Regions from separate parts of the Homo sapiens genome. Here region 2 is linked to region 1. Evidence: fine-mapped expression QTL. A gene starts in region 1. The other region holds a variant in brackets. All regions are shown on one strand. Distances are from middle to middle.

What was found. PIP is the estimated chance that this variant, and not a neighbour inherited with it, causes the effect.
Region 2: its variant is fine-mapped to the expression of TMEM225 in testis (GTEx, PIP 0.97).

Annotation. Positions count from the first base shown.
Region 1 is chr11:123,879,532-123,895,163 of GRCh38, forward strand. It overlaps TMEM225 (transmembrane protein 225), which reads right to left and starts at 6,139. Exons shown (of 4, transcript NM_001013743.3): 1 at 5,714-6,139; 2 at 4,959-5,105; 3 at 4,544-4,678; 4 at 3,389-3,821. The coding sequence starts at 5,894. The coding sequence ends at 3,607.
Region 2 is chr11:123,830,686-123,846,317 of GRCh38, forward strand. It overlaps the pseudogene OR6M2P. Among named protein-coding and RNA genes, the nearest start is that of OR6M1, 32 kb to the left of the region's middle. RefSeq lists an enhancer at 10,044-11,243. The variant A/G (reference allele first, on the strand shown) is at 6,644.

The sequences.
Region 1 (15,632 bases):
TTGTGTGCATGTGTTGATAAATTTTAACTTTTTTATAACAGATTTGTGTATATAATGTGGTAGTAAATAATAAAATAGACTAGTATCTACAGCTGTTATGCATTCATGACACACGCAATGTTTTCTAATTTTTTTGATATTTCTAGTCTATGCAGCTTGTCTGCAAGAATTTTCAAATTGTCACAGATTTCCGAAATATTTTGCAACATATTTATTGAAAAAAATCCATGTATAAGTAGACCTACATAGTTCAAACCTGTGTTGCTCAAGGGTCAACTGTAATTGAAAAGAATAAATATTTACAATCAGTAATTTAAACTTCCATTTTAGGAAACTGGAAAAAGCAGAGTAAATCAAATCCAAAATAATCAGAAGAAAAAAATTAGAGAGGTCAATGAAGTTGAAAACAGGAAATCAGTAAAGAAAATTAAAGAAAACCAAAAACTGGTTTTGCAAAATTATTAGTAAAATTAATAAACTTCCAGCCAGGCTAAGTAAGAAAAAGAAGAGAAGACACAAATTACTAATATCAGAAATGAAAGAGGTCATATAACAACAGATCCCATGGGGAGTAAAATAATAATAAAATAATTTTGTGAACACCTCTGTGGCCACAAATTTGATAACCAATTCTTTGAAAGAAACAATGTGCCACGACCAACATAAGAACAAACAAACACTCTTCATAGGCCTGTATCTATTAAAGAAATTGAACTAATGATTAATAACCTTCCAAAATAGAAAGCACAAGGCCCAGATAGGTTCTCCTCTGAAATGTGCTAAACATTTGAAGAAGAAATTATACCAATTTTCTATAACCTCTTCCAGAAGACAGAAGCAGAGGGAATTTTAAACATTCTATAAGGGTAGTGTTACCCAAAACCAGACAAAGACATTATAAGCAAATAAACTACAGAACATCTCTCATGAAGGTAGATGCAAAAATCTTCAACAAGATATTTCACCATTGAAAATCAACTAATGTGGCCCATCACATAACAGGCTAACAAGGAAAAATCACATGATCATATCAATAGATACAGGAAAAGATTTGACAAAATCCAAGACTGGTTTATAATAAAAACTCTCCCAAAACAAGAAATAGAGGGAAACTACCTCAATCTGATAAAGAACATCTAGAAAAAAATTGACTTAAACATCATACTTAATGTTGAGAAATGAGAAGCTTTCCCACTAAGATCAGGAACAAAGCAAATATGTCTCCTCTAATCGCTCCTTTTCAACATCATCCTAGACGTGCTGAAAGTGCAAGAAGAAAAGAAAATGTATACAAATTGGGAAGTCATAAATAAAACTTTTTGTTCACAGATGACATGATTGTATGTATAGAAAACCTGAAAGATTAAAAAAAAAAAAAAAACCCAAGACTCCCGGATACAGGTTAATGTATAAAAGTCAATTGCTTTCTTATATGCCAGAAATGAACACGTGAAATCTGAAATGTGAAAAACACAATCCCATTTACATTAGCATCCCCCAAATTAAAATACTTAGCTATAAATCTAACAAAATACTATAGTGCAAAAGTAATTGTGGCTTTTTGTCGTTAAAAGTAATGGTTGAAAACCGCAATTACTTTTGCACCAACTGTAATAAAATCCACCAGGAAAATTACAAAACTCTGATAAAAAATCAAATAACTCAGTAAATGGATATATATTACATATTCATGGATAGGGAGACTCAATATTGTCAAGATGTCAATTTTGCCTAACTTATTCTACAGTTTCAACACATTCCAATAAAAATCTCAGCAAGTTATTTTGTGGACATTGACAACTGGATTCTCAAGTTTATAGAGAGATGAAAAAGACCCAGAATAGCCAACATAATATTTCAGAAGAACAAAGTCAGAGGACTGACATTACCTGATCTCAGGACTTACTATGAAGCTGTAGTGATGAAGACAATGTGGTTTTGGTGAAAAAAAAAAGACAAATAGATCAACGGAATAGAACAGAGAGTCCAGAAATAGACCCAGGAGCAAAGGAAATTCAATGAAGGCTTTTCAATAAATGGTGCCAGAACAACTGGACATCAACATGAAAACAAAGAAATCTGAACACAGACCTTATACCTTCCAAAAAAATTAAATCAAGATGAATCATGGAAATAGATAAAACTAGAAGATAAGACAGGAGAAAATGTAGATGAATTTGAGTATGATGATGACTTTTTGGTAGAACACTGAAGGCACAATAAGAATTAATAAGCTGGACTTTATTAAAATTAAAAACCAGTGTGCTACAAAAGACGTTGTCAAGAATGAAAATACAAACCACGGGCTGGGAGAAAGTATTTGCAAGACATATCTGATAAAGGACTGTTATCCAAAATATACAAATAACATTTAAACACTCACCAAAAAAATGAAAAGGCTGATTACAAACAGGGCAAAAGAATGGAACAGATACCTCATAGATGCCAAGTAACCATATGAAAAGATGCTTTTCACATTATAAATCACTAGAGAATTGCAAATTTAAACAATAAGACACATTCACATCTATTAAAGTGGTCAAAATTCACAATACTGACAACATCAAATGCTGACAAGGATGTGGTACGGCAGGAACTCTCATATATTGCTGGTAGAATGCAAAATGGTATAGCCACTTTGGAAGACAGTTTGGAAGTTTTTTACAAAACTAAACACATTCTTCTCATATAACCCAGCAATCATGTTCCTTGGTATTTACCCAAAAAAGTTGAAAGCTTATGTTCACACAAAAACCTGCACACAGGTGTTTATAACAGTTTTATTCATAACTGCCCAAACTTGGAAACAACCAAGATATCCTTCAGTAGGTGAAATAGATAAACCAACTGTGGTACAGTCTTACGATGGAATATTACTTAGCCCCACAAAGTATGAACCACAAAAAGGCATGAAGGAACCAAGTTTTACTTACATAGATAGATTCAGGAATTCTAAAATAATTAGAAGATTTATTTCAGCAATTTATGAAAATAAATACAACATGATCTCTACAGTGTAATATTGATCAACTTTCAAACATTTGAAAAGCTGGTCTATATAATTTTTATAGATGTATAAATTTGTAGTGAAAATGTCAACATGAATGTAGAATCATCAGCAACGCATCCTTAAAAGTGTTTTATGATAGGAAACAAGAGATGGAAATGAAATTGGAGAAGTTTTTAGAGGAACATCAGTTATATCTATAAATTTAACGGAAAAACTTCTCCAGGAAATAATGTTAAAATTTTATAAAGTTGGGTTGATGTGTACATAGGTGTTTGATCATCATTTTGTATTTCTTATGTATGTTTGAAATATTTCACAATACAACTGTTATATATCATTATAAGTGTTTGTGATGTATAGACTTAACAATACAGAAAGTATTATTTATATGATAATATTTATTATATTAACAACAAATGTTGCAGAAGAAACTATTCGTTCAGCAGGCCAGGATTTTTTAAAAAACCATCTTCCAGATCTTTTTACAAACCCCAACCATAATTCCAAATAGAGACAACATGGTTGGAGACACAGCACACACCCACAAAGCTTTTTCCATAAAGATGAGCATATACTGCAAGAAATAGATTGCCAAATCACAGAGCCCAGGTTACGTGACGTGTTTGGACTTTTTTGTTTAGGGAATTCACAGTGTGTGCACGGACAATGCTACGAGGCATTGCAGTGCATTCTGGTAATGAAATATCTTCGATAGAATTCTCAGATTCCTTACATTCGTTGTCAGATTTATGGATGTTCAGGCAGGTACAGCTACTGGTAGACAACTTGCACTCTAGGAGAGAGAGGACTCCTAGGGAAAAGAGATTCCAGGGAGTGGGATGAAGGGACAATGGAGAGTCAGAAACAATTCTCTCCAATTTGGCTGAAGACCCTGACCCAAAGCCCAGTGGATCCCTTTTAACTACCGAAAGCCATCTGGGAGGTGAATGCTTTAGTGGAAGAAACCGGAAGTGTATGTACAATAGCTTAAATTCTGCTCAGCTTAAGAAAATTGAGGATTCTTTTTGAAAGAGAACATGCTTCTTTTTGGGTTAGGAAGTGTAATTACAAATGAAATTTTAAAGACTTCTTAGGAAAGGGGAGACTTCGGTTTCGGTAGATGGCCATCTAGCATCAGATGTTGTTTCTCTCTGCCCTCAAACTGCCTTGACACTACACTGTACTCCCAAGGTCACTGTTCCTCTCCACAGAGGCTGAGCATTCTGTCTCAGACACCCACCTTGGTCATGACTTTGGTGGTTATCTCTGCCCCAAAGCGGGGAGGGTGTGAAAGGCAAATAAAAGGCGGAGATGGGGAGCTACCCTCTGAGGCCAGGCACAGCAGACATCTCACATAGGCCTGACCTCCCACTCTTCTTGGAGGAACTGTCATCAGAGAATGAATCCAGGTGAGCTGCAGCCTTTTAAAATGCAAGGTTTGGCACTTTTCCCTCTATTCTCATCTTTTTACCCTTCCCTCTGTCGGGGATGGATTGGTTCTTAACACCCTTCAGGGGCCCTGGAGACACTCACCACAGACAGACAAGAAGAAAACATTTAAGTAAGCAGTATACATGATCCAGGTGATCCTATAACTAGAGAAGTGCATGGATTGACCTTGCTTCAGCTTATTGTGATATAGTATGAGTGCCCAGAGCAGAGAGATACCTGATGTCCAGACAAAAAAAAAAAAAAAAAAAGAAAAAGAAAAAAGTCCCTTCTGAGGAACTTTGGCTCCTTGATGCAAGTCTTCATTCCATATACACTTGACTTCCCAACCCCCACCCGGTCCAACTACACCTTGCCCAAAGACTGATCCTGATCCTGCTTTTATGGTAGATCTAACTCAGAAGCTACATATATATATATATAGTTTTCAGAGACTGCAGCCTGAACCCACCCATCAAAGTACACCTACAAGCTTGTGTTAGGGGAGCCAGGAAGTTACCTGAGAAGAAACTGAGGATGGTAGTGAAGAGTTGTATATATTTATTTTGAGGAATCAGATAGGTGAATTTCATACCCAGGATTAAGTTAAGGAGGAAGGAAAGGCCAAGGCTCGACGTCATCATAATCCTGACCACTTTCAGGTCATCTGTTGGAAAGCAAAAGCTGTTTTGAGAGGACAGATATTTCTTCTAGACTCATTTCTACCTGGGGTCCAGAAGTCTCTAGGTGAAAATTGGAATAGGGTGAAAGATTTGATTAAACAATAAGAAAGAAGTTGGAAAATAACAAGCAGGGGAACCTTAAGCTGAATAAGAGAACCAAAAACATTTTCTCTATCCTGATGTCTCTCTATGTGTCTTTCTCTTCTATTATTTTCTTCAAACTCTATTCTTGTTAAATACCGCAATTCACTCCATCATCTAGTGGCAATACAGATTACTTAATGCCAGTTACGTTTCTTTCTTACCCACATGTCTAGTTGTGTGGATCACCCTGCTGCTACTGCTGAGACTTCTCAAATGCCCAGCAGTTAAGGCTGTGAACATATAAACTTTTCTCCAGAACACCTAAATGGTGAGATTTTGGAATCTGCCTTGACTGTATTGACTATGGAAGGAAGGAAGAACACTGCAACTTGAGAAGCTGCACCAGAAAATAATGGGTACACTGGTGAGATTAATGCAAGTTAAGGAAAGCCAAGTTAAGGACACACCCTTCCTTTCCACCCGTCTCTTTCTAGAGTACAGTTCTGACCTTCTGGCCAAAGAGCAGGGCAACACATCATCCAAGGACTGTGGTTCATCTTGGCTCTTTCATCTTCTGAAATCAATTCAACCCATTTATCTAAGGTGATTCCCATCACCATTAAGACTACGGCCCAGGAGGAGAAAAGTATGTTCATACCCTGGATACTTCTATTTGAAACATGCACCATTGTGAGTGAAAATTTCTAGCTGGAACCACCACCACTATTTTGTAGATCTCTTCCTTGATTTGATTAGTTACAAGAAGGGTGATATCTGAACTTTCAGTGGTTGCTGAGGCATTGGTAACAGCAGAAGCTGAAGTAGTCTATAAAACAGAGAAGATAGATAACTCTCACCCTTCCTCACTTCCGTTATCTATCAGGGCCAGCCTGCTGTCAGGACTGCCAACTGCCATGGAATCATCTATTGGTTTGACCCTTGACCCTGGGGCCTAGTGGAGTGAAAGAACCAAGGGGTCCAGAAGTCCTGAGAGAGCTATCAGATATAGGGATCTGACATCACATGTAGAAAGAGCTGTCACATACAGGGATCATTAGAGGCCTTGAATTAAGTTAGACGTGCATGACTAAAGAGGTCCAATTTAGGAGTTAGAATTACACGCTCCAAGATTAGTTAACATTTTGTAGGGGCCAGTGAAGAGGAAAAGGATTTCAAGATCATTGAGATAAATAGTTAGCTAGCTAGTATCACAACAGGGAATGACCACTCAAAATTTAGGATGTTTGAAGAAATGTGTGTTCCCATTGGGAGGTCCCAGTGACATTTAGTTAGGGAGTCATCCAGGAAATAAACCATCATCCTGAAACCAAACTACTGGCCTGATAGATACACTGAGCCATTATAGCCCAATCTCATTTATAAGGCATGGACAATCATTTCTTGACAGAATTGCCTCTAACTTGGCATATAAAACAGTTTTCGATTCCTTGAGTAGGCAAACATGGTAGGCCTCAGAGTCAAGAGCTAGAGGACTTCTGCTACAATCCAAAAAAAAAAAAAAAATTTGCCTTTTACACAACTAAGATGAACTTCATCTCCAAAGGCCTCACTCTGCGTATTTTCTGACCTCAATGCAGGTGACTTTCCTTGGCTCAAAATAGACTTTTTTTTATTACCTCAAACATGTCAAGCTGTCTTTCTTCTAGATCTCTCTACACATCTTTGTATACTTTATTATTATTATTTATCGTTTTCATTTTTAAGCACAATACTCAACAATACACTTAATCTTATGAGGAAGGCTTTAGGGTTAAGAAAACGGACTAAGGATCCTGGTTTTAAATTGTAGCTCTACCACTCAGTAGCTGTGTGGTCTTAGAGATAATAATGCTTCCTACTACCTAGGGATTTTGTAAAGATTAAATACGTTTAGAGACATAAAGCACTTGAAAGAGTCCTTGGCACATAGTATATGATCTGTCAGCAATTACCATAGTATTAATTTGGGTTTTCTGGGAAAAGGCTCTGAGGCAGGAATTTGTATCCAGGGAGTTTTTTTGTGAAGCACTTTTGGGAACCACACCTGTAATTGTTTAAGGGAAGCAGGTTTGAGCAGAAGTTGAACTGAGGTGTGGGTGCAACAGAAGAAGCCCTGGCTGACCCCACGAGGTGCTCTGGCTCTGGGGTGGTCCTTCAGAGTCATTCTTTATAGAGGCAAGAATGCCTAGCCTTTACACTGAGCATCTGGCTGCCCCTAGGGTGTGATTTCCCTTCTTTCTCAAGAGATATTCCTAAATCTCCTAGAAACTGCAAGCCACAGCAGCTAACACTTCTGGTAGCTGTGGGGATGAACTCCCACCCTTCACCAATCCCATATCAGGGTCAGCTTGTTTTTAGGGTTGCCAGCTGCCATGAAATTAACTATTGGTTTGACCCTTGACCCTGGGGCCTAGGGGAGTGGGGGGACCAAGAGGGTATATGGGAAACTCCTATTATGCTCTTTCATGTTGATAATTTTATTTCTATGCCATCGATTCTTAAGAGTAGAATTCCTGTGCTGAAAGGCTTTTGTTTCATTTTGGTTTTAACTGGTAGTGGCAGTAAAGATTTAAAGATGTAGCCAAATTAGAGAAAGAGATAGGATGTGAAGGATGAGTAAGATACATGTCAAAAAGAAATCAAGTTTTTAGCTAGGGAGAACTAGTCAAAGATTCCATTCCAGATGGCATTCCAGCTGCCATTCCACCTGCCATTCCAGCTAGTCAAAGGTGCCATATAGTAAGCACTGGTCTGGTTAAGCTGAAGGTGCTTAGAACAGGCAATATACAGAAAAAATTTACTTCTGGAACTTGACAGGAGATTAGAGGGTTATCAACCTTGAATGAGATTGGGTGCATTCAGGGAGTAATAGACAACGGGTTATCAGACTTGAGATAGCAATTGAAACCTAGATGTGCATGTCACATATGCAGAAATATCACACAGAATGTGATAAGAGATAGAAAAGGAAAGGCCACTGGATTTGGCAATTAGAATGTCATTGGTGATTTTGGCCATAGCATTTTCAGTAGAATGATGAGAGAAGTAGTAGGATAATTTTTTTTTCTTTTAACAGGTGACAAGAGCAAATAAATAATGATAAAGGGAAAAAGAAAAATAGCATTGTAGCTTCAAGGTGAAATGTGCGATTTTGAAAATAGACAGTAGTATAATGACTTCCCATGTATCCTTCATCCAGCTTCAAAGCTCATCCTCTGAATTATTCTGAACCAAATCCTGACATAATTTTATGGTTAAATATTTGTGTCACTAGAAGATGAGGATTGATTTTTTTTTTTTTTGCTGTAGATTCACGTACTCTGTTTTTTCTTAATATGGTTTATTATCAGTTTTGTTGGTCTTTTCAAGGTCCATTTATTTAGGTATTTATCCATTTGAAAATATTATTTTCAAGATCATATTTCATTATTTTGAGTTATTATTTTTATTATTTTCCTTTTGTTTTTGCTTGTATCCCTTGAACTTCTTAAAATAGTTTTAAATTCTTTAATATGTGTAGACTTAGGACCATATATTTGTCTTTAGGCACTGAGTTTGCTATATCTCATACGTTTCCTGTAACTTTTTTTACTATTTTGCTTCTTATTAGACAGTGTTTAATTTTAGGTTTGATTTCACCAAGAATTCAGGGATTGTCTGGGAGAAATTCTTAATTACCAAGCAGCTATCAATTTTAGATCACTGTTTAAAGTTTTTTTCCTTTGTTAAAAATAAATTGTAATAAATATACCTTGCCGGGCATGGTGGCTTATGCTTGTAATCCCAGCAGTTTGGGAGGCCAAGGCAGGCAGATCACGTGAGGTTGGGAATTTGAGACCAGCCTGGCCAACACGGTAAAGCCCCGTCTCTAATAAAAATACAAAAATTAGCGGGATGTGGTGGTGTATGCCTGTAATACCAGCTACTTGGGAGGCTGAGGCAGGAGAATTGCTTGAACCCACGAGGCGGAGGTTCTAGTGAGCCAAGATTGTGCCATTGCACTCCAGCCTGGGCAACAGAGCAAGACTCTGTCTCAAATAAATAAATAAATAAATAAATAAATATACTGAAAAATTTATTTTTTGAATTTGTCAAGGTTTCCTTTGTGGCTGAGCACATGATTAATTTTGAATATTCTGTCAGCAAACAAAAAGGTAAAATTCTTATACCAATAATGAAATTTATGTGTGATGGAAGGTTATATAAATCAGTTTTTTATTGATTAGTTTAATTCTTCTGTGTTTTAATCTGCCAGGATATGTCCTATTTTGAAATAGCTGTGTCGACATCTGTCTTTATGGCTATATAGTTTGATTAGATCTCCTATTCCATTGCATTTTTGTATTGGTTATAATTTGTATATACAAAGTCTCATGGTTTTGGTATGTTAATTTTATTCCTACTGAATTCTTACCAAATTCTTGTTATTCTGTTATTGAAAATTATTTTTTATATTCTCTGAGGTTTTCAAGTTATGATTTTATATGTTCTTAACAGAGATTTATTTTTACCTCCTTCTTTATAATTTTTATGCCTCTAATTGTTTCTGCTTGGTTCTTCCATTTGTCAGAGACTTGTATTACAAGGTCCAACAGTAGCAGCAATAGTAGGTTTTTTTGTCCTTGTCCTACCTTAATTGAAACAATGTTTCTCCATTATATAATACATGCTTCATCTTTTAAGAAAGTAGCAATTGATCCCCATCTCATCAATTAAAAAGAAAACAGATTAGGTGTTGAATTTTGTTAAATGATTTTTTGGTATCTGTGGAGAAGAATGTGTAATTTCAAATTAGATCTATTAAGATGATGAATTATATTAATGCATTTCCTGATATTCTGTAATTCTTCCATTCTTGTAATAAACCTCACTTGGTTATACATATTATTTTTAAATGTTCAATGAACGTTACTTTTAGTACCTTTGCCCTGGTGGGTATAGTAAGGTAAATTTTTAGGAATGGACAATCAATATCAGGTTTTAAATCAGTGTTATGTTCATTCCAACATAGAAAGATGGAAATGTTCTTTCATTTCCAATGCTCAGTAACAGTTTGCAGTATTGGACTTACTAGCTCTTAGAGTTGTGGTAGAACTCTTTTGCAAAACCCTCTGTGCCTATGCTTTTATGCATCGTAGCTCATTGGTAACTTTTCCCCATTTCTTTTATGGAAAATTATGTGTTTAAACTCTCTATAGGGGTCATTTTTTATTTAAAAATTTCAATTTTTTATTTTAGTTCTGTTAGTTTCTGTTTTACACCTACATAATGCTTACCTATTTTTATTCTGAGTTTTAAAAAAATAAACTGTTTAACAGACTTTGGCAATATGTTTTCTAAAATCATGTTCACTGAGGTATAATTTACAAATAATAAAGTCCACCCTTTTAAAGTGTACAGATAGATGAGATTTTGATAAGTGTGTGCATTTACGTAACCACTATAATATTTAATACATGGAACATGTCTATTATCTTGAGACGTTTCTTCATGCTTTTTGGTGGCCAGCCTCTTCTCCCACCCCTACCTTCTGGTAAACATTGATCTGATTTCTGTTTTTATAGGTTTGCCTTTTCTAGAATGTGATATAAATTGAAATCATGCAAAACATAGACATTTTGATCATCTACTTTGACTTGCAAAATACGTACTTTCCAGATGCATTACTTTGTTGGGTATATGGGTAGTACATTCCTTTTTATTACTGAATGGAATTTCATTGGATGATTATACCACAATTTGTTTATCATTCTCCTGCAAATGGAAATGTTGGCTTTTCCAGTTTTTGGCTATCTTGAATCAAGGTGCTATAAATGTTAGCATGTGGGTCTTCGTATGGGCATTTGTTTTCATTTTACCTGGGTGAATACTAAAAATGAGATTGTGTGGTATGTGTATTTTTAGCTTTGCAAGAAAGTGTTAAACTGTTTTCCAAAGTGGCTGTACCATTTGTATTCCCTACAGCAGTGTTTGAGATTTCCCCTTGCTTCATATCCTCATCAGCACTCAATATTGTTAGCCATTTCAATTTCAGCTATTCTCATAGATTTGAGATTTGATTTGTGGTATCTCACATTTTGGTTTTGATTTGTATTTTCCCTATGACTAATGTCATAAAGAATGTTTTCAGGTGCAAATTCATCATCTTACATACATTTTCTGGTAAAGTATGTGTTAAAATATTTTGCTCAATTTTTGAAATATTTGTTATTTTATTACTGTAACCTGGACATTTTTTTTGTTCAAAGTGTTCTTTTATATCTGAAATTATTTGTTCAATTTAAAAAATTTATGTCAGTTATGCGTTATAGTTTTTCTCTGCTTTATTGGCTATTGCTAATGTGTATGCATGTATGTTTATGCATGTATGTGTATGTGTATGCATGTATGTGTATGTTCTATCATTTGCTCAGAATTTTTAATTTTCATCTTCTGTTTTGAAAATTATAGTATCTTTTTATGCATGCTATATTTTGACTTTTTATGGATTTTTTTTTTTGCAACAATGGAGGCAAGCCAATGAAGGAGGTGGAAGAGGAATTTGTGTGGCTTTTCAAATTCTCAGATCAATAGGACCCTTGTCCTATTGAAACACGATTCAGATACTTTGTTTTTTTCTATCACATTCCAGACTCCACGTGACTCATTAAACTTCCTAGGTCCCTACCTTTTCTCTAGTAAAGCACCTTCTTGGAACTTTGGTCCTTTGAACTTTACAAGCAACTTCCTCTTGTTTCTCCAGTAGCCAGTACTCTGACCTGTCAGATCTCAGACATCCTCTTAGTATTGCCTGTTCAGAAACGGCTCCTTACTTGCTGATGGGGAACCCTAGCTGCTGTCATCTGTGTTTTACAAAGACGATTGGTTGTTGAGGGGGCAACGTTAGCATCAAGAGGCAAAGTGCTATACCATTGGTGTACTAAGTTACAATAAGCTCAAAAAATGTAACAAAAACATTGTAGAATGTGATATAAATTGAAATCATGCAAAATATAGATATTTTGATCATCTACTTTGACTTAGCAAAATACATACTTTTAGCAAAATACATACTTAGCAAAATACGTATTGCCAAATTTATTCAGTAATATATAAATGTAACCAGTCAATGACCCTACATCCACTGTTATATAGATTCCACTGGAATCTGTATAATACACTCCAGACCTAACTCTAGGCTTCCCAGGATTGGTGAAGAGAAAACTGAAGGCAAACATTTACAAAAAGAACTTATAATCCACTTCATCCAGCAATCACAGTCTTGGATTCAGCGTTCTGCCTTATATGATGTATTTCTTCCTATTGCCCATATTTAGTCCTTTCATTTTCTGCTCAGAGTGATCTAAGAACTCAACACTGAGTGATACAGTTTTCTCTTGCCAGTGTAGCAATCAATGTAGCTTTGTTTTAGCCTCATTTGATGTCCTTTTTTGTTTCCTTCTGACAAGATCTCAGTGGAGTTCAGCTCTCACAGCAGTAGACTGATTAATAAGGAGATTCTTTCATGACCTCCAAAAGAATTATTCACACTTTTGTCTCTTTAGAGAGCTGTTAGTTGTGTTTCTGCCTTAGAGAGAGCAGATGGCTGGATAAGGAGTGGATGTGTGAAATACACATATTTGACAAGGAACTAGTATCCAGGATACATGGAGAATTGCTTTAAATAAATATGAGAAAGGCTGCTCAAGAGAAAACTGGATAAAACACATGAACAAGACATGTCACAAAAAGAATATCCAAATGTTCAATAAAGATATAAAAATGCTCATGCTTATATATCATAAACAAATGGAAGATAGTACAGAAATGCTGAGCAGGTTAGTGGGAAATGGACTCAAGATGAAGAATTATGAAAAAAGACACGGCCAGGTGCGGTGGCTCATGCCTGTAATCTCAGCACTTTGGGAGACCGAGGTGGACAGATCATGAAGTCAAGAGATCGAGACCATCTTGGCCAACATGGTGAAACCCTGTCTCTACTAAAAATACAAAAATTAGCTGGGCGTGGTGGTGCATGCCTGTAGTTCCAGCTACTCGGGAGGCTGAGACAAGAGAATAGCTTGAATCTGGGAGGTGGAGGTTGCAGTGAGCCGAGATCGCACCACTGCACTCCAGCCTGGTGACAGAGTGAGACTCTGTCTCAATAAAAAAAAGAAAAAAAAAAAAAGAAAGACTTGATTTATGTTTCATAGCAATTTTAAGAGCTTTGGAAATATAATTTCCCCTAAGATACGTCTGTAAACAGTTTTGATGAATGTAAAATATTTCCATACCTATCTTATGTTTGTTCTTTTCAGATAAAATTGAACTCAGATAAAATTCTTTTTAAGAAATATGCTTGGTATCTCATTGTATCAGTGTAGAATTAATTCTTCGCGGTAGGTAAATGATCAGGGAAACATTGAAGAGAAACCTTTTTAAAAGTATGTGTGGATCAATGTAAAGACTGCTATAAAGTAGTTTTAAAAGGGCCTGCATTCTAGTTTCCATTCTGCCACTAACTAGAGATTTTTGTCAATGGAAAAGTAACTGTATTCTTTGAGCTTTAACTTAAAATAACATGGTTTTATTTGATTTTTCTGACTCTCTCTAGCTGTAACTTTGTATGCTGTCATTATTTGAAGTCATATGGGACATTACATCTCTATGGAAAGGAGAATAATACAGTCTGTCTTAATTCAGGGTTTAGGGTTTGCATGGCTGAAATCAGGCCAAAGACTAGGCTAGTACCCTCTTTTCTGCTAATACCGGGTGATGTCTATGTTTTTTAATATTGGAGAAAGAAATCTAATCATTTATTTCACCATGCTTATTCAGGTCACATTTTTGAATACAGACAGGACTTCAGTAAATATACTACTTACCACTGAATGTCTTCTTTCTGTTCTTCTGCTTCATACTGTGCATATTTTCTAAAATTATTTTTCACATAATTTTATAATGTTTTGCTTGTAAGTATATTTTTCCTATATTGTAAACTCTTCGAAGGCATTTTTTCCCTATAGTTGTATCCCTAGTGCCTGAAACAGCACCTATTATGCATTACACAAGATTTACTGAGCAGATAAATTTTCACTGCTCTAACACTGACTAGATATCCTACTATTCATCTTTCTCAGTCCCCTAAATGCAATAGATGGGTATACTTATGAGTTAATTGAAGCAGTGTCTCAAACATCTGACCTATGGTGTTAGAAAAATGGGAAGGAGGGCTTCACTGTTTACATTCTTCATCCTTACTCTGAGAAATAGGATATAGTATTTAAATAGTCACTAGGGCAATTTATGTTCTAATTTGATGTCTCCACTCCTCAGTTATTAATATAAATGCCTTCTTCCAGCTATTTTGTCATCTTTCCCATATCTCCACATATTTAGTGTGATTTCCTACCGTTATTTTGTTTTCTTGAGGGTTGAGATACTCTGGGCTTTCTTTCCCAGGCTATCCCTCTAGAAGAAATGTAGATGAGAACTCAAAGGTGGTAAAATCATCTGTAACCACAGCCTGCATTACAGTGAAGTTTGATTCCCTTCTACCTCTCTAAGTGAAGGAGCTGAAGGCAGAGTTCCTAAGAAGGCATTTTTTTAAAATTTATGATGAGTTAGCAACGGACAAAGATAAGAAAATATCTTTATTGAAAAAGAAGAGGAAAGGTCAAAATAGTGAGAAATTGAAAGGACTTAGAATTATTATTGAAAACAAAAGAAAAAAGGAAGAATAGACAACAGCAATGTGCAAAAATATTTAGAAAAAATCCATAAATTATACTATTCTACCACAGCAACTAATTTCCTTTGGCGTATTATTTTCCAGATTCTGTTTACATGGACACATGTTCTACATGGTTGCAATCAAAACATTCTTATATGTAACTAGTAGTGTGAACAGTTAGAAACAGACTTTAAAATTATAATTTTAATAAATGCATACACAGTCTATTGTGTCAATATACAAAAAGTGTGTGATAACAAAGCTGGGTGCAGTTGTGTGCACCTGTAGTCCTAGTAGCTTGGGAGAAGGAGGTGAGAGGGTGAGACGAGAAGATGACTTGAGCCCAGGAGGTTGAGGCTTTGGTGTGCTATAATCACACCTGTGAATAGCCACTACACTCCGGTATGGGCAACCTAGTGAGACCTTGTTTCTTAAAAAAAAGAAAAATGTGTGTCATAACATTCTCCAGGAGTATTTAGGTGTTTTTCACAGATTGTACTGACACCCACCTTGAAAAATGGGATGGAGTTAGAGGAAGTAGGTGGTTCACATATCTGATTCCCTCACCACTCCCTCCTTCAGAAGCCATCCAACAAGCACTATTAATAGCAGCAAACAGATATGAAGCCCTTTATGTTTTAGAAAATACTTCTGTATCTATTTCTTACTTGATCTTTAAAAGAACTTTTAACATTCATATAGAAGATCTGTTGGT
Region 2 (15,632 bases), 49 kb before region 1:
ACAAAACTGGAGGCATCACACTCCCTACTTCAAAAAATGCTACAATCCTATAGTAATCAAAATAGCATGATACTGGCATAAAATCTAACTTACAGTCCAATGAAGCAGAACAGAGACCCCATAATTAAATTTATCATTTATGGTCAATTGATTTTTAAAAAGATGCCAAGAACACACAGTGGGGAAAGAATGTCTCTTAAATAAATTATATTGAGAAAATTGGATATCCACACACAGAAGAATTAAATTGGACCCATATACAAAAGTCACAGTGTGGCTCTCCCCATGCTGCTTTGCCTGTCCGAGTGGGAGCTGCAAGTTAGTACTGCCTCCTATCAAAAATCAACTCAAATGTGATTAAAGACCTAAATGTATGATCTGAAAGTGTAAACCTCCTGGACACAAACATAGGGGAAAAGCATTTTCAATTTGGTGTAAGCAATGATTTTTTAGTTGACACCAAACACATGGGCAACAAAAGCTCAGTTAGACAAGGGCAATTCATGAAACTAAAAAGCTTCTGCCTAACCATGAAACAATCAACAGAGGGAAGAGATAACTTATGGCTTGGGTGAAAATATTTGTAAACCATATATCTGACAAAGACTTAATAACCAAGGGAAAGTGGCAGATAGGAGGCAGGACTAACTTGCAGCTCCCACTTGGACGGGCAAAGCAGCATGTGGAGACCCACATTGTGACTTTTGCTCTAAGAACTACTGCAGGAACATACTAGAAAAGCTGAGAGAATCCACAGATTCTTTGAAGGAGGTGGGTTGCCACATCCATGCTCATGGATGGGTAGAATCAATATTGTGAAAATGACCATACTGCCCAAAGCAATCTACAAATTCAATGCAATTCCCATAAAAAATACTACCATCATTCTTCATGGAACTAGAAAAAACAATCCTAAAATTCATATGGAACCAAAAAGGAACCCACATAGCCAAAGCAAGACTAAGCAAAAAGGATAAATCTGGAGGCATTACATTACCTGGCTTCAAACTATACCATAAGGCCATAGCCATTAAAACAGGATGATACTGTTATAAAAACAGGAATATCGACCGATAGAACAGAATAGAGAACCCAGAAATAAAGCCAAACACTTACAGTCAACTGATCTTCGACAAAGCAAACAAGAACAGAAAGTGGGCAAGGACTTCACTCAACAAATGGTGCTGGAATAATTGGCAAGCCAAATGTAGAAGAATGAAACTGGATCCTCATTTCTCACCTTACACAAAAATCAACTCGAGATGGATCAAAGATTTAAATCTAAGACCTGAAACTATAAAAAGTCTGGAAGATAACATCAGAAAAACCCTTCTAGACATTGGCTTAGGCAAAGACTTCATGACCAAGAACACAAAAGCAAATGCAACAAAAACAAAGGTAAATAGATGAAACTTAATTAAACTAAAAAGCTTCTGCACAGCAAAAGAAATAATCAGCAGAGTAAACAGACAACCCTCAGAGAGGGAGAAAATCTTCACAATCTATACATCTGACAAGGACTAATATCCAGAATCTACAAGGAACTCAAACAAATCAGCAAGAGAAAAACAAAAAATCCCATAAAAAAGTGGGCTATGAATAGATAATTCTCGAAAGAAGATATACAAATGTTCAGCAAACATGAAAAAATGCTCAGCATCACTAATTATCGGGGGAATGCAAATGAAAACCACAATGTGATGCCACCTTACTCCTGTAAGAATGGCCATAATCAAAAAATTTAAAAAAATAGATTTTTGCCTGGATGTGGTGAAAAGGGAACACTTTTACACTGTTGGTGGAAATCTAAACTAGTACAACCATTATGGAAAATGCTGATTCCTTAAAGAACTAAAAGTAGACTCCTTAAAGAACTAAAAGTAGATCTACCATTTGATCCAGCAATCCCACTCCTGGGTATCTACCCAGAGAAAAAGAAGTCATTATACAAAAAAGATAACTTGCATATGTATGTTTACAGCAGCACAATTCGCAATTGCAAAAATATGGAACCAGCCCAAAAACTCACCAATCAACGAGTGGATAAAGAAAATGTGGCATATATATGCCATGGAATACTACTCAGTAATTAAAAGGAATAAAATAATGGCATTTGCCGCAATGTGGATGGAATTGCAGACCATCATTCTAATTGAGGTAACTCAGGAATGGAAAAGCAAACATTGCATGTTCTCACTCGTAAGTGGGAGCTAAGCTATGAGGACTAAGGCATAAGAGTGATACCGTGGACTTTGAAGATTCAGAGGAAAGTGTCGGAAGAGGGTAAGGGATGAAAAAAAATTCAGATCGGGTATAGTGTACACTGCTTGGGTGATAGGTTCACTAAAATCTCAGAAACCACCACCAAATAACTTATTAATGTAACCAAACACCACCTGTTCCCCAAAAACCTATTGAAATAAAAAAATGAGTTAATATCCGGAATTCAAACATTCAATAGCAAAAAACCAAATAACCCAATTAAAAATGGGCAAAGAATCTGGATAGACATTTTTCCCAAGAAGAGATACAGGTAACTAATAGGTATATGAAAAAGGTTCTCAACATCACTAATCATCAGAGAAATATGAGTCAAAACCACAATGAGATCATCTCATGCCTGTTAGAATGGCTATTATCAAAAAGAGAAGGGATGACAGATGTTGGTGAGTACGGGTGGAAAAGAGAAATCTTGTAGCCTGTTGGTAGAAATATAAATTGGTATAACCATTATGGAGAATAATATGGAGATTCCTCAAAAAATTAAAAATAGAATTACCAGATGATCTGGCATGCTCATTTCTGGGTATATGTCCAAAGACTTGAAATTAGATCTCAAAGAAACAGCTGTACTTTCATGTTTGTTTTATCATTATTCACAATACTCAAGGTATGGAAACAAACTAAGTGTCCACCAATGGGTAAATGGATAAAAGAACATGGTATGTAAATATAATGGAATACTTTTCAGCCTTAAAAAAGAAAAAAAAAAACCTCTGATTTTGCAAAAGCGTGAATGAACCTGTAGGAGGTGGGAGAGTATTATGCTAAGTGGGATAAATGACCATAGAAAAGGCCAATATTAAATGATCTTACTTACACATATGGAATCTAAAAAGGTCAAACTCACAAAAGCAGAGAGTAGAATGGTAGTTGCCAGGGGCTGGTGGTTGGGCATGAGGAAGAGTTGTTGGTCAAAGGGTACAAAGTTTCAGTTATGCATGATGAATAAGCTCTGGAGATCTAACGTACAGCATGGTGACTATAGTTCATAATACTGCACTGTATACTTGAAATTTGCTGAGAGAGTAGATCTTCAGTGTTCTTATCACACACCAACAAACAAATGGTAACGTGATGTGATGCATATGTTAATTAGCTTGATTGTGGTGATCATTTCACAGTCTATGTATTAGTGTTTCAACCACAGTCTATGTGTACAGTGTTTCAACCATTACGAAAACAGTGTGGAGTTTTCGTAAAGAACTAAAAGTCGGCCTACCATTTGATCCAGCAATCCCACTCCTGGGTATTTACCCAGAGGAAAAGAAGCCAGTATATGAAAAAGATACTTGAGCATGCATGTTTATAGCAGCACAATTCACATTGCAAAAATATAGAACAAGCCCAAATGCCCATCGGTCAATGTGTAGATAAAGAAAAATGTGGCATATATATACCACGGAATACTACTCAGCCATAAGAAGGAATGAAATGATGACATTTGCAGCAGATATTTAATATATATCAAATATAACATTGTACACCTTAGAATAGATACAATTTTTAATTGTCAATTACACCACAATAAGGCTGGAAAAAACAATAAGGAAACTATAGAAAAGATTTTTACTTTAAATCCTTATTTTTGGGTGTGCATCACCATATCCCCTAATTTAATCAATTGTCTTTTAACTTTTCAATATTACATTTGTGTATGACAGCGTGTTGTGCACAAGTGTCCAGCAGCCCCAGTAAACTTACTTTACCGTTCCCAGGCCAGTTTACCTATGCCCATACAAACTGGCTCTGTTCGCCTGTTGGGTTTTGTGCTAGGATATTTAGCCTCTCTCATCTCTCAGATTCATAACCCTGCTTTTTGCCATACACCATTTTGGTCAGCACTATATCTGCAGGGATTATGGATTCTTTTTATTTTATTTTATTCTATTTTATATTTTATTGAGACAGTGTCTTATTCTGTCTTCTAGGCTGGACTGTAGTAGCATGATCATGGCTCACTGCAGCCTTGAACTCCTGGGCTCAAGCATCCTCCCGCCTCAGCCTCTGGAGCAACTAGGACTACAGGCATGCACCACCATGCCTAGCTAACTTTTAAAATTTTCTTTCTTTTCTTTTCTTTTTTTTCCTTCTTTCTTTCTTTTTTTTTCCTTCTTTCTTTCTTTCTTTTTTTTTTTTTTTTTTTTTCTGAGACAGGTCTTGCTCTGTAGCCCAGGCTGGAATGCAGTGGTGTGATCTCGGCTCATTTCAACCTCCACCTCCCGATTCAAGCGATTCTTCTGCCTCAGCCCCTTGAGTAGGTGGGACTACAGGCATGCACCACCATGCCCAGCTAATTTTTGTATTTTTAGTGGAGACGGGGTTATGCCATATTGGCCAGGCTGGTCTCGAACTCCTGACCTCGTGATCTGCCTGCCTCAGCCTCCAAAAGTGCTGGGATTACAGGCATGAGCCATCGTGCCTGGCCACTTTTTTGATTTTCTTTGTAGAGACAGAGTCTCATTATGTTGCCCAGGATGATCTTGAGCTCCTGGACTCAAGCAATCCTCCTATCTTGGCCTCCCTGTTCTGGGATTACAGATGTGAACCACCCTAAAAAAAATAATCAGTTTTAAAAAAATATCAAAGCTAGTATAAATTGAGCGAATCTCTTGCGGTCCTTTTACAGGTTGAAGAGTTGGTGAAACATCAGGACCACTCATCTTTTATAATGATTCATTAAAATTTTAGTAGACCATGGAATACTATGCAGCCATAAGAAGGAATGAGATCATGTCCTTTGCAGGGACATGGATGAAGCTGGAAACCATCATTCTCAGGAAACTAACACAGGAACAGAAAACCAAACACCGCATGTTCTCACTCATAAGTGGGAGTTAAACATTGAGAACACATGGACACAGAGAGGGGAACAACACACACCAGGGCCTGTTGCGGGGTGGGAGGTGAGGGGAGGAAACTTAGAGGATGGGTCAATAGGTACAGAAAACCACCATGGCACATGTATACCTATGTAACAAGCCTACACATTCTGCACATGTATCCCATTTATTTTAGAAGAAATAAAAAAAAGAAAAAGAATTAGTAAATATTCCATCTATCTCTGCTTTGTTATGCCATTTTTAATTAGCCAGGCTTTAAGCAGTTCTTTTTTGATGACTGTCTAATTTTAGCCTTTTTTTTATTTGTGAGGGTGATTTCTTTTCAAAGGTGCAATTCTTTCAGGCTGCTTATTGGAAATAGAGCCCTATATTACTTTTGGAATTAAAAAAATATATCAACACTTCATAAGTTTGCCGTATGTTTTCTGTTTTTGACATTTTTATTTTACTTTAAGTTCTGGGATACATGTGCAGAATATGAAGATTTGTTACATAGTTATACACGTGCCATGGTGGTTTGCTGCACCTATCAACTCATCATCTAGGTTTTAAGCCCTGCATGCATTAGGTATTTGTCCTAATGCTCTCCCTCCCCTCACCCCTACCCCCTGACAGGCCCTGGTGTGTGATGTTCCCCTCTCTGTGTCCATGTGTTCTCATTGCACAACTCCCACTTATGAGTGAGAACATGTGGTGTTTGGTTTTTTGTTCCTGTGTTAGTTTGCTAAGAATGATGGTTTCCAGCTTCATCCATGTTCCTGCAAAGGACATGAACTCATTCTTTTTTATGGCTGCATAGTATTCCATGGTGTATATTTGCCACATTTTCTTTATCCAGTCTATCATTGATGGGCATTTGGGTTGGTTCCAAGTCTTTGCTATTGTAAATAGTGCTGCAATAAACATACATGTGCATGTGTCTTTATAGTAGAATGATTTGTAATCCTTTGGGTAATGGGATTGCTGGGTCAAATGGTATTTCTGGTTCTAGATCCTTGAAGAATTGCCACAATGTCTTCCACAGTGGTTGAACTAATTTAAACTCCCACCAACAGTGTAAAAGTGTTCCTATTTCTCCACAGCCTCACCAGCATATATTGTTTCCTGAGATTTTAATAATCACCTTTCTGACTGGCGTGAGATGGTATCTCATTTTGGTTTTGATTTGCGTTTCTTTAATGACCAGTGATGATGATTTTTCTTTCCTATGTTTGTTGGCCACATAAATGTCCTTTTTGAGAAGCATCTGTTCATATCCTTTGCCCATTTTTTGATGGGTTTTTTTTTTGTTGTTGTTGTTGTAAATTTAGTTAAGTTCCTTGTAGATTCTGGATATTAGACCTTTGTCAGATGGGTAGATTGCAAAAATTTTCTCCCATTCTGTAGGTTGGCTGTTCACTCTGATGCTAGTTTCTTTTGCTGTGCAGAAGCCCTTTAGTTTAATTAGATACCATTTGTCAATTTTGGCTTTTCTTGAAATTGCTTTTAGTGTTTTAGTCATGAAGTCTTTGCCCATGTCT[A/G]TGTCCTGAATGGTATTTTCTAGGTTTTCTTCTAGGGTTTTTATGGTTTTGGGTTTTACATTTAGGTCTTTACTCTATCTTGAGTTAATTTTTGTATAAGGTTTGAGGAAGGGGATCAGTTTCTGTGTGGCAGATGGGAATGGGAATGTGGAGTGGGAATGTGACCATTAAAAGAATACTCCATTCAGTTTTTCTCAGGACACCTCCCTCAGTTTATACTTTCAATTTCATAAATCCAAGGGTTTACAAAAATCTTTGGAGTATTTAATTATATTAATATTTTAAAAATAACCGGGTTCTTAAGATGTAGACATTTTCAAGGATTTGCATTTATCTTTATGGAGGAGGAATCTCAATTTAAGAATGTATTCCTTTAAAAAATTTAAAAAAATTTTTTTAACTTCAGTCTCTGCGCTAGTAAGAACGTATTCTTTATAAGTCTATTACTCAAGTGAACTCATGACAGTTTTTTCTCTTTAACTGTAAAATAAAAAGAAAAGTTTTAAATCATATCTCCTACTTGAGGAAACATCTGAACTTAACTCTCCTTCTAATATATATTTTATTGTTTATGAAAATTATGTTTGTTAATTTTTCCAATATTAAAATTGACATATGCTTCCCAAGTTTTAAAAGCTCCAAAATGTGGGAAAAAGAGATATAATTATAATCCCACTCTTCAAACAAAGTTATTTAAACATTCTGTATAGTGGATTTTCTTCCAGCTTTAAAATGACTTTTCAAAATAGGTGATTTGGCTTTAAGATTTTAAGAAGCTCTTAAAGGTATTACTGCTCATGATTAAAATGTATACAGTGTTTCAATGTTAAAGGTCTTTTTTAGCATTTTGTCACTACCACTTAATTCAATGTCATAACCATAGCAAAACAAACAATTTCTTAGATTTAGTGGAATAAATTTCCTCCTCGAGTGAAACAAATTTCCAGGTTGAAACCATAGTATAGCTTTCAAGAAAATGAATTCTGTTAACAACCCAAAGGTGTAGGAAATGGATTATCTGCTAGGGCTCCCAGGAAAGAATGCAGCCTGCTGACATTTTAGCCCGGTAAGATCTGTGTTGGGCTTCTGACCTACAGAAGTATGAGATAACAAATCTGTGTTGTTTTAAGCTGCCAAATTGGTGGGAATTTGTTATGGCAGCAATAATCACCTAATATGGTAACTTTTGATACCTTGTCTTAATTAGGCTCTGATTATAAGCACAGAGCAGAAAGTTACGGGACTCCTTCACTCTTGCTGACTTTGGTCTACCTTCTTTTTGTCTTTAAACATTTGTCCACTTCGTTATCTTATGATGGACTGTGCTCTCTTATAATACTCTGAATTCATTCCTAAGACAGCTCTTTCTTTACCTGCTCTTTGCTGAGAGATTCCATGCCAATTCTTAAGGCCCCTATCTTTGTCCACTCAGCTAGAGAGTCTGTCTTTTTCCCATTCCTACACTCTTTTTAGAGAGCTTACTCCCACAGCACCTACTTATTGGCATTGTGGACACGGTGATTTGATACCTTGCTGACTCATTCTTCTTACAAATAAGTGAATCAGAAGTGGAAATCTCTCTCTAGTTGGACCAACCATATCCTCCTCCCAGAAATTTGGATTTTGAACTCAGATCATTTTAAATATGTATCCACTTAAATTTAATACATATCAATACATTCAAATACATTCAATATCTATACCCTTATATATTGAATATATATCTGTAATTGAGTATATACATATATTTGTGAATGACAAAAGCAGCTATCTTCCATGTGCACAGAAAAGTGGAAAAAAACACTGCAGAGACAGAAAAGCAAATCAGGTGTATATTAGTTTCTTATGGCTGCTGTAACAAATTACCACAAACTTGGTGGCTTAAAACAACACTAATGTATTATTTTACAGTTCTGAGGGCAAGAAATCCAAAAACAGTTTCACTGGGCTGAAACCCAGGTGTTGGCAGAGTCATGCTGGAGGTTGTGGGAGAAAATCAGCTTCGTTGCCTTTTCTAGCTTTCGGAGGTTTATTTCTTGGTTTGTGGCCCTTTCCTCTGTCTCCAAAGCCAGCAGAGCAGCAGCATCAAATCTCTCTCTGCTTTCATCGTCACATGGCCTTCATTTTTGTAATAAAATCTCCTTTTGCCTAGCTCTTACGATGACATTTGGGATTACATGTAGGGCGCATCTGGGTAATCCAGGATAATCCCCCATCTCAAGAACTTTAACTTAATCACATCTACAAAAATCTCTTTGCCACATAAGATAACATTCACCGTTTCCAGAGGTCAGAACCTGGATATCTTTAGGGGCCATTATTCAGCCTACCACAAAGTATATGGAGAAAAATAATACAGAGAAATACAGCTACAGAGAGACCTAAGGAGAAATCAGAGACTTAAAGAGAAGAGAATACCTACCTTGGCTCCTTACAAATTTCTAGTTCCTTCTTTTTGTCACTTAGCAGGTTTTGATGTTTCTTATTTTCTGGGGTTCCATATGGCACTTTTGATTATTATGATAAGTACATAGTTTACTTAAGCAAGCTTGATTAGTTTTCTGATACTTTTTTTTTCCTCAACCAAATGAATGCTAAGATCATCTTCTGTATATGATGGCCATATTCGCCAGTTGCTATAGATGATCAGTCTAGACTCATGGTCAGTTATGGCTTCTGAATAAATAGTTTTCCTTTCAAACCAAATTGCCTCTCAGTCCATTCTAATTGTATCCCACTTCTGGTCTGCCTTGATCTGCAGGTCTGTCTAACTGTTGGCTTCTGGCTTCAGAAAAAGAAGGTAGCTTCCAGGCTAATTTGGTTTCCCCTCTTAAGTTTTCCTTCCACACTTTATAATATAGTGGAGTGCTAAAGGAGTCTGAAGTTCACATATTCTAAATTTCTGCCACTTACCAATGATGTAGTTTGGGGCAAGATGCTTAACCTCTGTAAACATCAGTTTTCTCATCTGTAAAATGGAGATAATGATATCAGCTTTCTAAGGTTATTAGGAGGAATAAATGAAATACATGTGTATATATTTAAGTATACTGTATAAACCCTGGATTATGTTATTGTTATTATTATTATTCCTTCCTTGCTATTGTTACTATTATTATATAATATTTAACTATCAAGGTTGAAGGCTTGCAACATCTGAAAAGAACTAGTAGAAGTGTTTGTTTTTAATTATATGTGGTTTCATTTCTTAGACCATCTTAGCTAAGCCTACAACAACAAAAAGAAAAAGCACAACGTCCCCATTTCACAGATGAGAAAACAAATGGTCAGATAGGCTAAGTGTCACTCGATAAAAAAAAAAAAAAAAAAGGGTGATAAAGCCAGGCTCAAAATTTAGGTTTTTTGATTTTAGTTTTGTATTTTTCATTAATCCATGATATTGTGAATGCACAGTGGTTCAATCATAGAGTTCAGGGAATGTCATTTTCTCTATGGCTGAATTGTCTCTTCTAAACTGTGACTACAGTACTTTGCCTCTGATGCGGCACTGAGCCTATTCATACCTTCCCATATGCCTTTGATTTTCTGGTGTCTAAATCTGTCTTTCTCCACACTGAGCTAGAGATGAAAATAACCATTCTGAGCAGAAAAGCTTGGTTAAAGTTTTAAGTTCTCCTGTGCCATGAGGACATAATTTTGCTGACTGCTTCTTTCAAGACTGCCTTTACCTTTTCATTTCTTAGACTATAAGTGAAGGGATTCAGAAGAGGGGTCACCATTGTGGGGACAGCTGTCACCTTGTCAAAACCCATTGAATGACTCTGGCTGGGCCTCACATACCTGAAGATGTTGCTTATATAAGCGATGGAAATGACGGTGATGTGGGAAGCGCACGTGGAAAAGGCCTTCCGACGTCCTTGGGCTGAGGGGATGTGCAGGATGGTAGAAATGATGTAGATGTAGGACACAGTGGTGAGCACCAGTGAGGTCAGGAGGATGAGGGAAGATAAGAGGAAGTTTATCATCTCGATGAAATGAGTGTCTATACAGGACACATGTAGCAGAGGGGTGATGTCACAGAAGAAGTGACTAATTTCCTTGTAACAGAAAGGCAATCTGGACACCACAATGGTTGGGCACAACACAGACAGGAAGGCTCCAACCCAGCAGCCCAGAACTAGTAGGAGGCAGGCCCTGCTGTTCATGATAATGGTGTAGTGCAGGGGGTCACAGATGGCCACGTAGCAGTCAAAGGACATCACTGCCAAGAGGATAAACTCCACTGTCCCCAAGAAAACAAAGGAAATAAGTTTGGGTGATGCACCCAGCAAAAGATATGGTCTTCTTGTCCTGCAGGAGACAGGCTAATAGCTTTGGGATAACTGAGGTGGTGAAAAAAATGTCCAAAATTGACAAATTACTGAGGAAGAAGTACATTGGGGTTTGGAGGCGATGATTCGCACATGTTAGGGAAATGATGGCAACGTTTCCTGTTAGAGTAAGCATATAAGTAAACAAGAGGACTGCAAAAAGGGAAATTTGAAGCTGCTGAAGAACAGGAAAGGCCGTCAGGGTAAACTCAGTCACTGTGGTCTGATTTTGGATGTCCACTGCAGGCAATGCCTAGTGGGAAGCACATCTCTGAAAAAAAAAAGATAAAATGCAGAGATGATGCTCAACTTACGGAAGTTTTCAACTCCCAATATCTGTGATAAGAGTGAAATAGAAAAAACTTTGTGTGAGGAGTCAAGAGTGATTCGTTCACAGTCTGCTTCTGACTTTATTAAATGTGGTCCCTTGGGTAAATGACATTACTTCTTCTAACTTCAGTATTCTCATATTTCAAAGTTTTGATTGAATGAAATTATCCTCATGGTCCCTATAATTCTAGTCTTTATGATTTTAGTCTCTTTTACACAATGCTCCTTCCTGTCTCTTTTTTGCTCTTCCTGACCTACTACTTTCCCAGCTAAATTCTGTTCTTAAAAAGAGAGGCATACTAAACTGAGAATCTGGTCAATTATTTGAAAAATTGAGAAAAAGAAGGTTAATAAAACTTGAGTTAGGCCCGGTGAGGTGGCTCATACCTGTAATCCCAGCACTTTGGGAGACCGAGGTGGGCGGATCACGAGGTCAAGATATTGAGACCATCCTGGCCAACATGGTGAAACCCTGTCTCTACTAGAAATACAAAAATTAGCTGGGCACGGTGGCGGGTGCCTGTAGTCCCAGCTACTCGGGAGGCTGAGGCAGGAGAATTGCTTGAACTCAGGAGGCGGAGATTGCAGTGAGCTGAGATCACACCACAGCACTTCAGCCTGGTGACAGAGTGAGACTGTCTCAAAACAAACAAAAAACAAAAAAAACTTGTTACTTTTCTCAAAGTTATTTCAACTTTGAAGATATCTTCTAAATCAAAGAACAGAAACTGTTAAAACTGGCCAAGACAGTTAAATCGAGGGGAGTCAACATTTACCTCTACTCATTTTTGTTATTGTTACCATGTTTTGAATATCAGTGTAATAGACAATTGGACACAAATTACTCTAATCAATCAGTCTTTCCCTACTTAGTTTTTCTTTGTTTTTACTTTATATAATAGAAATGTTTTGATGTCTACACTGTTATGGAACAAGTAGGTCCATGATACATAATTCATAATCTGTGTAACCTATTTTAAATATTTTGAAAAAAATCTGATGGAAAAATGATTATTTGTTGTTATTTTGTTGTTTGTTGCCATGTTACATTCATGGCAGCATCCAAAAGAACAACAAACGTTTCCCCTTTCCTTCTCCAACTGATTCTTACAGGTTTTCCCAAAGAAGTCTTTTATACACGGCATTTTTTTCCCAGCCATTTGAAGAGTAGGTTATTAATAATACTGCAAAAAAGTGGATGCCGAAACATGTATTTGATCTATCGAAAAGATGTATATGAAACACTCAGCTTAATCTCTGAATACTGCCCTGCTTCACCGAAGATCTGTTTCATGTCTATGTAATTCAGCTGAAGCACTGTCCTCTGGTATATTATTTTGTGACCAGTGCTCTAGTTTCAAGTTAAAACAACTAATTTATATCTCTGAACTAGGTAAATTTTTTAACGTGGTGCACACAGAATTCCTCTTTAAGGGAGGCCATTTCCTCAGACTCTCTACCTGGGAAAAGTGACCTGCCAGAAGCTGTTACTATTATTATTTTTTCATTTATTCATTCTTTTAATTAACACATAGTTTTCTTTAGCATATGCCGTGCATCATGCAAATTTTCAGGTGCTGGAGCTATATCAGAGGAAAACAAAAAATATAAAGCAAAAACAAAGCAAAAATGTTAACAACAAAAAACTTCCCTTATGAAGCTTACAGTATAGTTAAGAGAGACAGAAAATTAGATAAATAAGTAAAATAAATGCTATGATCTTAATTGTGGTAAGTCTCAGAGCTAAGACATTTTTTCTAAACATATTTCCATTTGCAAATCTGGCTGTGACTTTTTCTGGTTCTTGTAGTTGCTTCTTTATTTTTATTCACTACTCATTTTTTCATGAATCAAGGTATCCTTGTTATTTTAATAATTATCTTCATCTTCTCTGTTCCATATAAGAACATTCTGGTTTCTTATAATTTTTTCACATTTCTAAGCTGTTGGTAAGTACACTTTACAAATGCATAGTGGTTTTTGTCTATTTAAGAGTAATTTTCAAATGAAAGTGGCATGGAATAACTTGACTTGCTGTTGAGCTTAGTAGCTCTTTTTACTTCCTTAACATCCTTGGTCCTGGTTTCTGAATCCATGAGTATTGGTCCTCTCCATATTCCTTCCCAGTCTAAATATTTCTTTTGTTTTTCATGAGGTCAGACGCCATATCTATTTCATACCTCATCCTTTGAGCCCAGAAGGTGCTCATTGATTTACTAAATAAATAAATCAGAATTGGGGAAGCTTCTCCCTGAAGCATGAGGTTGCAGCTGCCACAAGGGTAAGCAATGGTAACCTCTATAGCTTGTATTTTCACATATCCAGTGCAGACTTCTATCACATCCTGTACTTTCTTGGTGTGTTTTTCTTTGCCCAGTTATCAGGATCTGTGTAGTTTTGGAAAACTGCTTCCTGCAATATTAATGCTGGGCTTGGGAAGAAACCCAAACACCGCAATGCCTAATCAAGATCTTTCGTAGTTTAGAGGTGGGAGACAAACAAAAAGGTGAAATTCTATGATAAAAAGAGAAGTTTACATTAGTAAAGTGCATTATTCCACTTCTTCTAGTAATTTTTTGAATTGTTACAAGGTGGGCTGTTTAATTAGATTTTAAGTTATTAAAGAATTCCAAAGAGTAATATCTATTGAAATAGGCTCTTGGCACCAATAGAAACTCTTTTTACCACAAATACTCTAATGTTCTCTCCTCGCTCGCTCTACTGCTCTTTTGCCCAGACAATAAACTTCTAAACTATTGGCTACAGCACAAAGAGCAAAAACTATATCTGGTTAGGCAAGTAATAATGTTATTGAGATAGAATACAAAAATAGAATAGAGCACACTATGTAGACAAGGAGAAAAGCTTTAGAATTCCCCTGCATTTTCCCCTTCCTCTCTTCATCACTGATAACACTGAAGACTGACAGATATCTTAAGGCAGAATAATGAAGATTTTCATACCTATCATCCCATTGTTCAATGCCTATCATCCCATTGTTCCTTTCATTTGTCTAATTTCTTTACAACATCCTTAATGTCTTACTTTTTTTTTTTTTTTGTTGCTAGGTAGTCTTTTAGGACCCTGATAGGAGCTTGATTTCCCTCTGGTATTTTAAAAATTGAGCAACTCAGGCTTTTCAAAAGCATTATACAATTTTTAAACAATCAAAATCTGTGGTGGTTGAAAACAAACAGAGTTGTTATTTGCCATGATTGTCATAAAAAATTATCACTATGGGAAAAAAAAATGGTATTGCGAGCTTTCTATTTTGCTATACTTTGGGTCAAATGTACGTCTCTGAGAAGAACTGAATACGTAGCATCTCTCTCCTTTGTGGAGCCTCTTAACTTCTGAAAAGAACATGGCCTTTTTAAGGTTATCTCAGGGCCCTGAGGACCTCATCATATCTAGGAAGGAAGGCTCTGGGCTCTCTGGACTGTAAAGACCTGTGTGTAACAATTTAGGCTTTCATTTTTGGGGGCATTTGTTCCCTCATTAACATTTCTGTGGATCCTTAGAAAATTGCGTAAAATTGCACATTTAAAGATTCAAGAATTAGTCAGGAAAATGTGGCATAATAGGAAAAAGTGTAGCAGGTTTTAGAATCAATGATATGCTATATTTTTAGTTTAATCACTTGTAGCTTTATGATCTTTTAATAGGATGCTTAAGCATCCTGAGTTTTATCTTCCTCATCTCTAAAATGGCAAAAGTAGTAATACCAGATTCAAGGTCCTAAGACAGTGCCTACCACAGTGATTTATACCTAGTAGGTGCTCACTAAATGTTTCTTAAGAACATAGGGTTGGGAAAGGGTGAACAGAAATGAAATAAGATGTGATGCAGGTTGGGGATTAGATGTAACTTAAGTTCTTTACTATCAGTAAAATGTAAAAATGTTTGTTACTGAAGTATATTAAAAGATTTAATTACATACTTAGGATAAAGATATAACATTTGACACCCTCCCTCATAAAATATTTGACAGAATGGTAATTACATTTTAATTTATAAAATTACCCATAAACAAATTTAAGTGACACTTAGATTGTTTGACATAAATACAGATAATTACATGACAAAGTATACTTACATTACACTGCTTGTAGAACGATTGGTAATTTCTTCATTCAAATATGTTAAGAAATTTGAACTTCAAGTATTTTTTTCCTACTCCATATCATTCATTATTCTTTAAATGCTTTCACTGCTCCAGTTTTGAATTCTCTATAAACCTACCTCTGTTTTAGCTGAGACTCCTCCTTATACCACACTTAATCCCCTTTGCAGAACCATACCGAATGGTTATTCAATTTTGGCTGGAA